2 separate regions of the Homo sapiens genome follow, and region 2 is linked to region 1. The links come from fine-mapping of genetic effects on gene expression. Tissue or cell type: lung. Region 1 holds a variant in brackets; the other region holds the start of a gene. All regions are shown on one strand. Distances are from middle to middle.

Region 1 (8,341 bases):
GAAGAAAGAAAAAGACTCCAAAGCATGGAGGCTGAGGAAGTAGAAGCATGATGTTGCCCCATTTCTTGAGCTGAGAAGACTACAGGAGATGCAGGTTTTAGGGGTTAGGTCGGTAGCTCAGTTTTAGTCATGTTGAGGTATTACACATCCAAGTGGAGATACAAATGTAGGTGTCATCAGCTTATAGATAGTATTTAAAACCCAGGTCAGAATGGATGAGATCACCAAGGGAGGATTGAGGCATGGGAAACTCCGAAGTTAAAAGGTCAAGGAGATGAGAAGAACAGCAAAGAGGAAGGAAGGAACCAGGAGAGTGTTGTAACCTTCAAGCTAAATTTAAAAAGTATCTCAAGAAAGAGGAAGAGAGAATGATAGTCAGATGCCACTAAAATATCAAATAGGATGAAACCTGAGAATTGACCAATGGATTAAGGCAAAATGGAGGTCACTGGTGATCATGATGAGGAGAGAGTTGATGGACTGGTGGGGACAAAAGCCTTCATGGAATGGGTTTACAAGAATGGAGGAGGAAAAAAGAAAAGTCACTATAAAACTCTTTCAAAGGAAGGAAGGAGAAAAAAGATGGTAACTAGAGGAAAAAGAGTGACCAAGAGGACTATTTCTTTTAATGGTTACATTTTTTTCTCATCAGGTTCTACTGACCCAAGGAAAGGACTGTTTGAAGATGAAGAAGTTGTATGTCAGTACACGGGTGGGGAGGATCCTGTAGACAGGAAAAACCGAAGTTGTAGCAGAGCGATAGGGAAAGTTTCTGGAGTCATGTTCTTCAGAAGGTGAGCGAGAGGGTCAAGTTCACAAACAGAGGAATTGCCTTACACAGGGGCAGGGACAGTTCCCGAATAATAATTGGGAGAGAAGGCAGAGTGAGCGGGCATGGGTCGAGGGAGCTGGGGAGCTGTGGGATATCTCTTTGTTGCTTCTGTTGTCCAGTGGTATAAGAAACAAGAACATGTGTTGTCAAACTCTTCGTGGGAATAAAAAATCAAGATCACTCTCTAAGAGTGAGGATGAAGAAGAAACTAGGAATTTGAGGAGCAAAAAGATAGGAAATAGGCATTCAGGAGAGAGGAATGGACTAGGAGGGGAGATCAAGAGACTGAGAGGCCAGTGGCCTGGAAGATTCATTTACCTGGATATTTAAATCAGCAGGAATGGGCCGGGTGCAGTGGCTCACTCCTGTAATCCCAGCATTTTGGGAGGCCAAGGCTGGTGGATCACCTGAGATCAGGAGTTCAAGACCAGCCTGACCAACATGGAGAAATTCTGTCTCTACTAAAAATACCAAAATTAGCCAGGCTTAGTGGTGCATGCCTGTAATCCCAGCTACTCGGGAGGCTGAGGTAGGAGAATCGCTTGAACCCGGGAGGCAGAGGTTGTGGTGAGCCAAGATTGTGCCATTGCACTGCAGCCTGGGCAACAAGAGTGACACTCCGATTCAAAAAAAAAAAAAAAAAAGAAAAAATTCTTGAACTTCACATAGAGAGTAGGATTCTATTTATGTATATATATACTATAAATATATAGTATGATTCCATTTATATAAAGTTCAAGCTGGGCGTGGTGGCTCACACCTGTAATCCCAGCACTTTGGGAGGCTGAGACAGGTGGATCACGAGGTCAGAAGTTCAAGACCAGCCTGGCCAAGATCCTGAAACAAAACAAAAATTAGCCAGGCGTGGTGGCACGCACCTGTAATCTCAGCTACTTGGGAGGCTGAGGCAGGAGAATCGCTTGAATCCAGGTGGCAGAAGTTGCAGTGAGCCGAGATCATGCCACTGCACTCCAGCCTGGGCGACAGAGCAAGACTCTGTCTCAAAAAAATAAAATAAAATAAAAATAAATAATAAATAAAGTTCAAGAGCAGGCAAAGTAAATCAATGGTGATAGTAGCAGAATTGTGGTAACCATTGCCTAGGAAAGAGTAAGAGGAATGTGTGTGTGTGCATATATATATATATATATATATATATATAGATAGATAGATAGATAGATATATGCACACACACTCACACACACTTTTTTTTTTTTTTTCTAAACAAGGTCTTGCTCTGTCACCCAGGCTGGAGTACAGTGGTGCAATCACGGCTCACTGCAGCCTCAACTTCCTGGGCTCAAGCGATCCACCCACCTCAGCCTCCCAAGTAGCTGGGGCTACAGATGTGAGCCACTGCGCCTGGCTAGTAGGAGGAATCTTTGGAGATGCACACACAGACACACATACCCCCAGATTAATGGCGCGGCACCTTCTGTTAATAGCACCCACCACCTCTCCTTGTTGCAGCCATCTTCTGCCTCACCCCACTCTGTCCTATACTACTCCTATCCTCATTCTTGATTATTATTATAATTTTTTTTTGAGACTGAGTCTCGCTCTGTCACCCAGGCTGGAGTGCAATGGCACAGTCTCAGCTCACTGCAACCTCCACCTCTCAGGTTCAAGCGATTCTCCTGCCTCAGCCTCCCGAGTAGCTGGGATTACAGGTGCCCACTACCACACCCGGCTAATTTTTTATGTGTGTTTTTAGTAGAGACGGAGTTTACCATACTGGCCAGGCTGGTCTCGAACTCCTGACCTCGTGATCTGCCTACCTCGGCCACCCAAAGTGCCGGGATTACAGGCGTGAGCCACCATGCCTGGCTTTTTTTTTTTGAGAGAGGGTCTCACTCTGCTACCCAGGCTGGAGCGCAGTGGTACAATCTCGGCTTACTGCAGCCTTGAGCTCCTGGGCTCATGTGATCCTCCCACTTCAGCCTCCCGAATAGCTGGGACTACAGGCATGCACCACCACGCCCAGCTAATTTTTTTATTATTGGTAGAGATGAGCCACCACATCTACCCTATTTTTATATTTATTTATTTATTTATTTATTTAGCGATGGAGTTTCACTCTTGTTGCCCACGTTGGAGTGCAATGGTGTGATCTCAGCTCAGTGCAACCTCCGCTTCCCAGGTTCAAGCAATTCTCCTGCCTCAGCCTCCCCAGTAGCTGGGATTACAGGCGCCCGCCACCACGCCTGGCTAATTTTTATATGTTTAGTAGAGACAGTTTCACCATGTTGGCCAGGCTGGTCTCAAACTCCTGACCTCAGATGATCTGCCCGCCTCGGCCTCCCAAAGTGTTGGGATTACAGGCATGAGCCACCGCACGCGGCCTGTTGCTCTTCTTTCACCCTCCCTTCCCTTCCTGCCTCTGGCTTCTCCAGAGTTGGGATGGTGCGAGGAAGGAAAGGAGTCAAGTTTTACATGACAGGGGCTGTCAGAGCCCTCTGTGTGACAGGTTCCTAAATGCTCGCTTTCTCTTGGGTGGAGCATATTTGAAGGTCCCTGGGAGACTTACAGGACCTCTCCACTGCCCTTTTCTCTGGCATCTGCAGTGCACTCTCCAGGTGACCTCTTGCACAGTGCCCTGCACTTTTGCCCCATGGCATCTTACCATTGGGCTCTTCTTGCCCTTCAGGAACTCCTTTTGGGCAGGCTCTATCTGGATGGCTCAAGCTTGGGTACTTTCCATGCTTTCCTCTTGGTCCGTGGGAAACTCCCACATTCTTAGCATGCCAGGTGCTGAAATAAAGTCTACCCACTAGTGCCACCATTCCAGGTCTGGGCTCCAGCCAACCTCCCACATGTCCCATTCAGCAGACATTGGTCTCTATGTTCATTTATATCTCCCAAATACCAGTAAATTCATGTCAGGCTCTTCCAGAACTCTCTCTCAGTGACTTGCTTGTGGTCTTTGACAACACTGGGTCAGGAGTTCTGCCACCCAGGAAACATCCAGCCAAGGACTCAGATGCCCATCTGTTTCTTACAGGCACTCCCAGTCTCTTGGTACTGTCCTACCTTGGTCTGCGTCCTCCCCTCGCCCCTAAAGAACAAGAAACAGGGAATACCAAAGGACTCCAGAGAGATCAGCAATCAACAACAGATCTATCTCCATGAGCGTGCTCTCTTTCCTGTGTCAAATGTGTCATCTCATAGAGGCTGCAGGTGGCAGTGGGGGCCATGGGAGCTGGAGGAATTGTGCTGTCTTTTGCGTGGCTGGAAAAGTATTTTTCTACAATGTGGGGGTACCTGTGTACACTTCTGTCCTTAAGACTCAGCTCAAACTCCAACACAACCAGGAAAACCTTTCAACATCTTGTTACACACAGCCACCTTTAATTTTTTTCTTTTTTTTTTTTAAACTTTTATTATCATTCAAATGATTTGGGCAATTTCATCATATACTACATCCTTTCCAAGGCATGTAACCTGATCATGAAATAGAAAATTAATGCTTCAATAACAATAATTTATACAGAAAATTTTCCTGAAAATAACATGTAGACTATTTTCCTTGGCCTTTGTATTCAAACAAAGATGAAAGAACTAAGCTGTTAAAAAGCTAAGCTGGGCTGGGCGCAGTGGCTCACGTCTGTAATCC[T/C]AGCACTTTGGGAGGCCAAGGCGGGCGGATCACGAGGTCAGGAGATGGAGATCATCCTGGCTAACACAGTGAAACCCTGTCTCTACTAAAAATACAAAAAATTAGCCAGGCGTGGTGGCGGCCACCTGTAGTCCCAGCTACTCGGGAGGCTGAGGCAGGAGAATGGCATTGTGTCCGGAATTGGTGGGTTCTTGGTCTCACTGACTTCAAGAATGAAGCCGCAGACCTTCGCGGTGAGTGTTACAGTTCTTAAAGTCAGCGTGTCCAGAGTTTGTTCCTTCTGATGTTCGGATGTGTTTGGAGTTTCTTCCTTCTGGTGGGTTCGTGGTCTTGGGGGCTCAGGAGTGAGGCCACGGACCTTCGCGGTGAGTGTTACAGCTCTTAAGGCGGCGCATCTGGAGTTGTTCGTTCCTCCCGGTGGGTTCGTGGTCTCGCTGGCTTCAGGAGTGAAGCTGCAGACCTTCGTGGTGAGTGTTACACCTCATAAAGGCAGTGTGGACCCAAAGAGTGAGCAGCAGCAAGATTTATTGCAAAGAGCGAAAGAACAAAGCTTCTACAGTAGGGGACCCAAGCGGGTTGCCCGCCACCTTTAATTTTCACGACCACCTTGTGAGTTAGAGGAATTAGGTAATTGATCTTAAAGAAGTAAAGAGCTTCTGGTTATATGTGGTGAATTGAGCTTATCTCTGCTCACCCTAGAAATCACGTCAAAATAAGAGTAAAGAAGTGAAAAAGGGCAGGCATGGTGGCACGTGCCTGTAGTCCCAGCTACTGGGGAGGCTAAGGTAGGAGGATCACCTGAGCCTGGGAGGCCAAGACTGCAGTGAGCCATGATGGCCCAACTGCGCTGCAGCCTGGGCAAAAAAGTGACCCTGTCTGAAAAATAAAAAATAGCCGGGCGCGGTGGCTCATGCCTGTAATCCCAGCACTTTGGGAGGCCGAGGCGGGTGGATCATGAGGTCAGGAGATCGAGACCATCCTGGCTAACACAGTGAAACCCCGTCTCTACTAAAAATACAAAAAATTAGCCAGGCGTGGTGGCAGGCGCCTGTAGTCCCAGCTACTCAAGAGGCTGAGGCAGGAGAATAGCGTGAACCCGGGAGGCGGAGCTTGCAGTGAGCCGAGATCGTACCACTGCACTCCAGCCTGGGTGACAGAGCGAGACTCCGTCTCAAAAATAAATAAATAAACAAATAAATAAATAAATAATAAGACATGAAAAAGCACAAGGACAAAGAGAAGACTACAGCAAATGAGAGACTGATTTAGTTTGATACAGATGTGCAGATAACTGACACAGGATTTCTGCACAGGATGTGCAGAAAGCCAGATGTGCAGGATAACTGACTTAAGTTTGGGGATTTTTCCATTCTACTCATAATGTAGGGAGTGAAGAGCCAACAAAGAACAAAATAATCAGTCTTAGATCCCAAAAAGGCTCAAAAACAGAAAAGTCCTTGGGCCTCTGAAAGCAGGGGAAGGAAGATTGGAAAATTCCTTGTTGGAGATAATGACTGACTCAGGAGAAGAAGCCAACAGGAACTCAAATGCTGCTCCCTCCCTCCTTACTCCCAGGGAGGCCCACATATGACGGTCTCTGCTCACCCCACCCATGGAGTTTCCAGGCAGCTCTCTCTTAAGTGGGGACAGACAGCCAAGGATCATCTGAGAGTTGAAGGCAGCCTCCAACATAAAAGAAGCCAAAAGAGGAGGAGCCCAGAGAGTAACAGATAATGAAGGGACCGGAAGAAAATATCCTAAAACTGCAATGACTATACTTAGAAATATAAGATTGGCTGGGCGTGGTGGTTCACACCTGTAATCCCAGCACTTTGGGAGGTTGAGGCAGGTAGATCATGAGGACAGGAGTTCAAGACCAACTTGGCCAAGATGGTGAAACCCTGTCTATACTAAAAATACAAAAATTAGCTGGGCGTGGTGGCACATGCCTGTAGTCCCAGCTACTCGGGAGGCTGAGGCAGGAGAATTGCTTGAACCCCGGAGGCAGAGGTTGCAGTAAGCTGAGATCATGCCACTGCACTCCAGCCTGGGTGACAGAAAAAGACTCTGTATCAAAAAAAAAAAAAAAAAAAAAGAAAAGAAATAGAAGATATTGCACCCATGATACAAAAACAGGATGCTTTTTTTGTTTGTTTTTTGGGACAGTCTTGCTCTGTTGCCCAGGCTAGAGTACAGTAACGTGATCACTGCTCATTGCAGCCTGGACCCCTTAGCTCAAGTGATACTCCCACCTCAGCCTCATGAGTAGCTAGAACTATAGGTGCACTGCACCACAGCCAGCTAACTTTTTTTGTTTTTTTGTTTTTAATTAAGAAAATGTGGGGGAATGGGGTCTTGCCATGTTCCCCAGACTGGTCTTGAACTCCTGGGCTCAAGTTATCCTCCCGCCTTGGCCTCCCAAAGTGCTGGGATTACAAGCATGAGCTATCACACCCAGCCCTGGTTTCTTAATAATACACCCTGAAAACTAGAATACAGGCCATGGGCAAGGTGGCTCATGCCTGTAATCTCAGCACTTTGGGAGGCCGAGGTGGGCAGATCACTTAGGGTCAGGAGTTCCAGACCAGCCTGGGCAACGTGGTGAAACACCATCTCTACAAAAAATACAAAAACCACCATCTCTACAAAAAATACAAAAACCAGATGGGTGTTGTGGCATGCACCTGTAGTCCTAGACAGTTGAGATAGTGAGGCAAGAGGACTGCTTGAGCCTCAGAGGTAGCGGCGGCAGTCAGCCTGAGCCGTGTTCCTGCCACTGCATTGCAGCCTGGGTGACAAAGTGAGACCCTGTCTCAACACCAACAAGCATTCCTCTGGATGCTGAAACATTGAGAAAAAGAAAAAACAAACAAGAAGAAAACTGAAAACAATGAGGCAATGCCTTCAAAATTCTAAAGAAACATTATTTTAAATGTAGAATTCTATACTCTGCCAAGATGTTTTCAGACACACAAAAAATAAACTTGCTGTGCTCCTTTCTCAGAAAGCTACTGGATGACAAATTCTACTAAAACAGAGGATGAAACAAAGGAAAACCAAAATATGGCATCCAGGAAATAAGTGAGTCCCAGGGTGAAGGTGCAGGGAAGGGCCAGAACTAAAACTTTGCAGCAGGTCGAGGACAACCAATCCACATTGGAGCAAGCTCAGGAGGCCATCACGTGAGGTTAACAGGTTACCTACTGTATTTGACCAATGAGAGGAGGTTTCTATTTCTCATGGTAAAAGAATAAAAACAAAAACAATGGGCCGGGCGTGGTGGCTCAAGCCTGTAATCCCAGCACTTTGGGAGGTGGTGGCTCAAGCCTGTAATCCCAGCACTTTGGGAGGCCGAGGCGGGCGGATCACAAGGTCAGATCCAGACCATCCTGGCTAACACGGTGAAACCCCATCTCTACTAAAAATCCAAAAAATTAGCCGGGCGTGGTGGCGGGCGCCTGTAGTCCCAGCTACTCGGGAGGCTGAGGCAGGAGAATGGCGTGAACCCGGGAGGCGGAGCTTGCAGTGAGCCAAGATCATGCCACTGCACTCCAGCCTGGGTGACAGAGCAAGACTCCGTCTCAAAAAAAAAAAAAAAAAAAAAAATGCTAGGTGTGGTGGTTCAGGCCTATAATTCCAGCACTTTGGGAGGCTGAGGTGGGCAGATTGCTTGAGCTCACGACCAGTCTAGGTAACCTGGCGAAACCCCGTCTCTACAAAAAAAATATAAAAATTAGTCAGGCGTTGTAATCCCAGCACTTCAGGAGGCCGAGGCAGGTAGATCACGAGGTCAGGAGTTCAAGACCAGCCTGGCCAAGATGATGAAACCGTCTCTACCAAAAATAAAAAAATTAGACGGGTGTGGTGGCACATGCCTGTAATCCCAGCTACTTGGG
Region 2 (6,390 bases), 230 kb after region 1:
AAGAAGACCACTGTCATCTTTCAAGGGCTCAACTCCTTGTTCTTCCTACTCCCTTTTCTTAGCGTTTATTTGAGATTTTTCAAGCCTGTAAAAGAAGTACTTGTTTTAAAACAATGTTGGAAATGAGGAAAATGAGCAATATCAACATTTTATCCTGAGGGACAGGGAGTAGAAAACAAGCCAGAGGCTGCTAGTTACATAGTTCAGTCTTAGGGATGAAGGGATTTATGTCTCTCCTCCCTCAGGTACCTCTGTAAAGAAACACAAGACCAAACAATGTGTTTTCCAGTTTTGTTTTTCTGTACTAAAAATATCTAGTGGGTGCTAGGATTGAAAGGGCAAGAGAGGTTGAGATACTGACATCTCCTCATGTGGATGAAGTGGCCATTACCTCTGGTTTCTGTCTATCTGCGTAAGAAAAAAAAATAGAGAAAAAGGGAAATTACAACCACATCTATATTCTTTTCCCTTCCTTGCTTCATCTCCCCCTCCCACAAACCCATATTCCCTCAACCCTACTGCCCACCCCTTACTTATTTTTGTATGCAATAATGGTATTGGACACACAAGGAGAAAAACAGAAACAAGCAAAATGACCAAGTGTAAGCTTTATTACCTTTCCCTCCTCAAAGTCCTATCATCCGTATCAATTGAGACTACCTTATCAAGTCAATCAGAACCTTTGCTAATTCTGGGAAAAGCAGAGGACTATCCTTCCTTGTCCTGGAAGGACAGTACTCCCAAATGGTAGTGGTGAAGAGAGTGGGCACTGGTGTCAAACCTGGTTTAAATCTCGTGGCTCTGCCACTTACTAGCTTTGTAAACCTCAGTTTCTTCATCTGAAAAGCAGGGATAATAATACCTCATAGGATGTGAGGATCGATTCAGGTAAAGTGCACATAGTAAGACCTCAAATTTTGGCACTTGTTGCTGTTAAGCTGTATTAGGTCAAAACTATTAATTGATTAAGATCCTTCATATCTGTTAATTATCTGTGCATCAAAAAGACTTTATGGGCCGGGCACAGTGGCTCATGTCTGTAATCCCAGAATTCTGGAAGGCCAAGGTGGGCAGATCCTTGAGCTCAGGAGTTGGAGACCAGCCTGGGCAACATAGCGAGATCTTGTTAGCCAGGCATGGTGGTGCACGTCTGTAGTCCCAGCTATTCAGCAGGCTAAGGTGGGAGGATTGCTTGAGCCCAGAAGATGGAGGGTGCAGTGAGTTGTGACTGCGCCACCACACTCCAGCCTGAGTGATGAGAGACCCTGTCTCGAAAAAAAAGTCTTATGGTCAGGGGCACAGTAGCTCATGCCTGTAATCCCAGCACTTTGGAAGGCTGAGGCAGGAGAATTGCTTGAGCCCAGGAGTTTAAGACCAGCCTGGGCAACATAGCGAGATCTTGTCTGTGAAAAAAACAGAGAATTTCCAAGACCAGGCATGGTGGCTCATGCCTATAATCCCAGCACTTTGGGAGGCCGAGGCGGGTGGATCACTTGAGGTCAGGAGTTCTAGACCAGCCTGGCCAACATGGTAAAATGCTGTCTCTTCTAAAAAAAAAAAAAAAATTAGCCGGGCATGGTGGTGGGTGCCTGTAATCCCAGCTACTCAAGAGGCTGAGGCAGGAGAATTGTTTGAACCTGGGAGGCAGAGGTTGCAGTGAGCCAGGATCACGCCATTGCACTCCAGCCTCGGCAATAAGAGTGAAACTCTTGTCTTGAAAAAAAAAAATATTTCCAATCTTAACTATTTGGTCAATAATCACCTAATGAGCAGTAAGACATTTTACCTAATGACCAACCAGTAGTTGCTCAATAAATAATAGGTGGAATCAATGGCTAACAATGTGAATAACCAATGCATGTTATGAATCAATAACCAGGTAAGTCAGTAACAGTTCATGTAAGCAACACTGGCTGGCTTAGCAACTGGGTTTTAGATACCAGGACTTTTCAGATCCGTCAACAAAGACCCTGGCTCATCACCAAACACTTACTGGTTGCATCTCTGTGAACACTGAAGAGAGGCTATTCCAAATATCCTCCAGGCCAATCCTGACCCGTTTCCAAAAAGCCAGGGCTGGGCAGGGGCTGGCGGGTGGCAGGCTGGGACTGCTTCTGAGGTGGATGGTGGGGAAGGGGGTAGTGGTGGTCCTGGTACTGGTGGTGCTCTGAGAGGCACAGTTGGTGTCAGTACAGAGACTTGTGTCCAGGGGGCACTCTTCCCGAAGTCGGTTGCAGGGACATTGTTGATAGGTGCAAGGCTTGTGCTCCGTGCGGAGCTGGCTCAGCGCCCCAACTCGAAGGCGCCCGGAAAGGCCGTGCAGCTTCCCAGACCGGCTCCGGCTCATGGTGCCCGACTTGCAGTGGCAGTGCCACGGGCCCCAGGGCATCAGCACCAGCCGCAGATCCTCAGGAGATGGCATGGCTGTGGGTGAGGGTGACGGCCACCGGCTCGGGGTAGACCCAGGTGTGGACCACTGGCTCAGGGTGGCCTGCGAGCCTGGCAGGTCCTCAGTAGACCTCCCGGGGGAGCGCGGCAGGCTTGAAGTCAGCCTGATTTCAGGCTCCTGACTATTGGCTATAAACCTCGTGCTGGAACTCCCCGCTGTATTGGGAGTCGCACTGGGAAGCTCTCTGCTGGTGCTATCCTTTCCGGCATTAATCACAACCCCCTCTTCTGAAGACCCATCCTCCTCGTTAATGGCGGACGACCGGCTAAAGCCGGTGGACACCGTGGCGGCCAAGAGCTCGGCAGCCGCTGGTCCAGCCAGGCGGTCGGCGTCGGCCATGGCATCATTCTCGTCCTCTAGGATTATCCTTGTCTTCCGGGGAAGACCAGTCCGGGCGGTGCTCCGGTAGCTGCGGGTCATGGGGCCCCCAAAGCGTAAACTGACCCGCTGCATTTCGGTCGGAGTCTGGGTCAGGCCTTGGGCCCCCGCCGCCCGGGGACCCAGATTCAGCAGCAGGACCCACAGCAGCGCGCCGGCGGCGGGGACCATGGGGCTGGGCTCTTGGGGTTGGGAGGGTGGCCAGTGAGGCAAGCCCTGCCTCCTACCTTCGCTCCCTCCCTTCCGCTGTAGACCCACCGGGTCGTTTGAACCGAGGCCCGCGGGGAAGGGGGTGGGGTTCGACGCGCAGGCGCGCTCGCGCGGGCCGCGCGGGGTGCTCCTAAGGAACCTCTGCGGCAAGAACTCTGCCAGAACCGAAGGTTTGGGATGCAAGGGGTGGTGAAAGAGTCGTTCACTTCTTTGGAGCAGAGCTTAAATGTCTCATCGCAGTTTATTAGCCTCTACAGTTCTAAATTTACTAAAGAGGGCAAAAATACAGGTTTTGAAAGCACTCCTTCCCAGGCTCACAGGCAGCAGACATGACTTAGAAGGAAAAAGGGCATACAGCGGTTCTTCAAGATTTAATGAGCTGACTCTCCTGGCTCCCAGCAGGCAGGCTGGCTGTCAGGTAAGCCTCTTCCATCCAAGGTGGAAGGATCACAGTCCCTCCAGTTAGACAGGAGGAAAATTAGGACCCAAAAAGATGAAGTTATTTGCCCAAGGTTCTACAGCTAAAGTAGGATTAAAACCCAGAGCTCTGGCCGAGCGCGGTGGCTCACACCTGTAATCTCGGCACTTTGGGAGGCCGAGGCGGGCAGATCACGAGGTCAAGAGATCGAGACCATCCTGGCCAACATGGTGAAACCCCGTCTCTACTAAAAATACAAAACAATTAGCTGGGCGTGGTGGCGTGCGCCGGTAGTCTCAGCTACTCGCTGAGGCTGAGGCAGAAGAATGGCTTGAACCGGGAGGCGGAGGTTGCAGTGAGCCGAGATCGCACCACTGCACTCCAGCCTGGCGACAGAGCGAGACTCCGTCTCAAAAAACAAAAAACAAAAAAACCCAGAGCTCTGCATATCCCATACAAAATGACCCTACATTCAGCCTTCCGTCCCAGCAACTGGAATGAAAGTCACCCAGCAGATCAGTTTCCCAGCCTCAAAGCCCTGCTGAAAGTAGGGTCATGCAAAGGACAAAATCCCACTGAGAAGTGAAGATCCGGTGGTACTGAGGTTGGGGATAAGATGATTTACAAAACAGTTCAGATGTTTCAGGGATTCAGGTGTAGGCAGATCACTAACTGGTTCTAAGGCCTTTTATCCAGTCCTGTGCTATGTCCCTCCTGAGCCATGGAGATCCCGGTCCAGCCTAGGAGAGGGAGAGGGGGAGGAGAGAAGTGGTTCAGGGGGTAGGACTTGGGTTTTATTTTCTGGTTTGGGGAGAGAAGCCAGGTGAATTGGAAGAGCTAGATGATTGGGTTGAGTCATCATTTAGCACTTTTGCTCCCTAACACCCTCTCCCCCACTGGATATCATCTGTTCACTGCCAACACATCTCTTCCTAATTTCTAGGGCCAGTCTGAATCTCCTCTGCACTGTGATTATTCCTTTATTCCTTATTGCCTCTGCACTTATATGTATAGGTTTTTTTTTTTTTTCATTTATTCTTGTTGGATGCAGTAGTGTCCTTCATTTCTTCTCTGGGTGTGTGCAGTTTCCCCATATACATTAAAGCACCCGAAAACAGGGCCCTCTAGCTTTTCGTTCTTTTGTATGTCCCCCAAGGCATTAAAAAAGTAGAGATTGGCTTTACACATCCCACCCCAAGGCTTTATTCTTAAGTGTGAAACTCACTGTCTGACAGCTTCAGGGATGTGGACTTGATCCAGGGATATGAGTTGGGCCAGCTCCCCCAGGCTGTCCAGAAAACGGATTTTTCGTGTGAATTTGGAACTGAAAAGAGAGAATAAATCAACTGTGTTTTGTATTGGGAGAAGGGTTCCCAAAAATCCTTGCAAAGAAAAATGTAGAAGTAGAGTGGTTAAGGCTAGAAAGAATCAAGGTGGAGAAAGATCTTAATCTTGATTTTGAAAATGGGGGGAAGGAGAAAGGAGTCCTTGTTCCTAGAACTAGTACCTGATGAAGGGCCGAAGCAGTGCCAGAAATGCTTTCACATACCATGTAGCATGGACAACCACCAGGGCTCGCAGGTTTTTCCGTAGCCTGAAAAACAACATGAGATCATCCTATTTCTTCTTCCACCTTTATGTGTGAAGATCACGTGGAACTGTTTTCTGTACTGTAACTTCCTTCATTCACTTCTCTAGTTTCTAGATTTATCTGGTACTTGGGTCTAATCCCCATTCCGTCAGCTGTAATCTCAGCTCCACCCATCTTATTTAGCCCTCCATGATCCTCATTTTTAAAAAAACTCTCAAGATTTTTTTTTTTTTTTTTTTTTGAGACGGAGTCTCACTCTGTCGCCTGGGCTGGAGTGTAGTGGCACTATCTCAGCTCCCTGTAAGCTCTGCTTCCCGGGTTCATGCCATTCTCCTGCCTCAGCCTCCTGAGTAGCTGGGACTACAGGCGCCCGCCACCGTGCCCGGCTAATTTTTTGTATTTTTAGTAGAGACGGGGTTTCACCATGGTCTCGATCTCCTGACCTCGTGATCTGCCCGCCTCGGCCTCCCAAAGTGCTGGGATTACAGGTGTGAGCCATCGCGCCCGGATTTTTTTTTTTTTTTTTTTTTTTTGAGATGGAATCTCACTCTGTCGCCAGGCTGGAGTCAGTGGCTCGATCTCGGCTCACTGCAACCCTCCACCTCCCGGGTTCAAGTGATTCTCCTGCCTCAGCCTCCCGAGTAGCTGGGATTATAGGCACATGCCACCATGCCCAGCTAATTTTTGTATTTTTTTAGTAGAGATAATGACTTGTCACCATGTTGGCCAGGCTGGTCTTGAACTCCTGACCTTGTGATCCGCCCACCTCGGCCTTCCAAAGTGCTGGGATTACAGACGTGAGCCACCGCGCCCGACCACCTGGTCTTTTTCTGCTCCATTTCCATCTTGTGCTCTACCCTCGCGTAAGTTCCTTTTGCATGCTTCTACATCGCTCCATGACCAAGATTACTTATAAAACTCTAGGTGGAAGAAGACCAGCAAGGACGAAAAAAGGAAAGGGGGCAAGAAGAGAAATGTGAGCAAATGGAGATGGGGGAACCAAAAGGGGAAAAAAAAAAAACCTGAGAAGGAAAAGAAGACACAGGGCCAGGCACAGTGGCTCACACCTGTAATCCCAGCACTTTGGGAGGCCAAAGCAGGCAGATCACCTGAGCTCAGGAGTTCAAGACTGGCCTGAGAAACATGGCAAAACCCTGTCTCTAACAACAACAACAAAAATACAAAAATTAGCTAGGCATGGTGGTGGCGCATGCCTGTACTCCCAGCTACTTGGAAGGCTGAGGTGGGAGGATGGCTTGAGCCAGGGAGGGAGAGGCTGCAGCGAGCCAAGATCTTACCACTGCACTGCAGCCTGGTGACAGAGAAGACACATAGGTCAGTGAT

Evidence for each region. PIP is the estimated chance that this variant, and not a neighbour inherited with it, causes the effect.
Region 2: it holds the start of C1orf56, and the variant in region 1 is fine-mapped to the expression of C1orf56 in lung (TOPMed, PIP 0.97).

The regions. Positions count from the first base shown.
Region 1 is chr1:151,269,351-151,277,691 of GRCh38, reverse strand. No RefSeq gene overlaps it. Among named protein-coding and RNA genes, the nearest start is that of ZNF687-AS1, 8.4 kb to the left of the region's middle. The variant T/C (reference allele first, on the strand shown) is at 4,446.
Region 2 is chr1:151,044,456-151,050,845 of GRCh38, reverse strand. It overlaps C1orf56 (chromosome 1 open reading frame 56), which reads right to left and starts at 3,095. Exons shown (of 2, transcript NM_017860.5): 1 at 1,994-3,095; 2 at 1-408. The coding sequence starts at 2,998. The coding sequence ends at 388. It overlaps BNIPL (BCL2 interacting protein like), which reads right to left. Exons shown (of 10, transcript NM_138278.4): 8 at 4,963-5,049; 9 at 4,681-4,779; 10 at 3,126-4,195. The coding sequence ends at 4,159. RefSeq lists enhancers at 2,198-2,437, 2,718-2,767.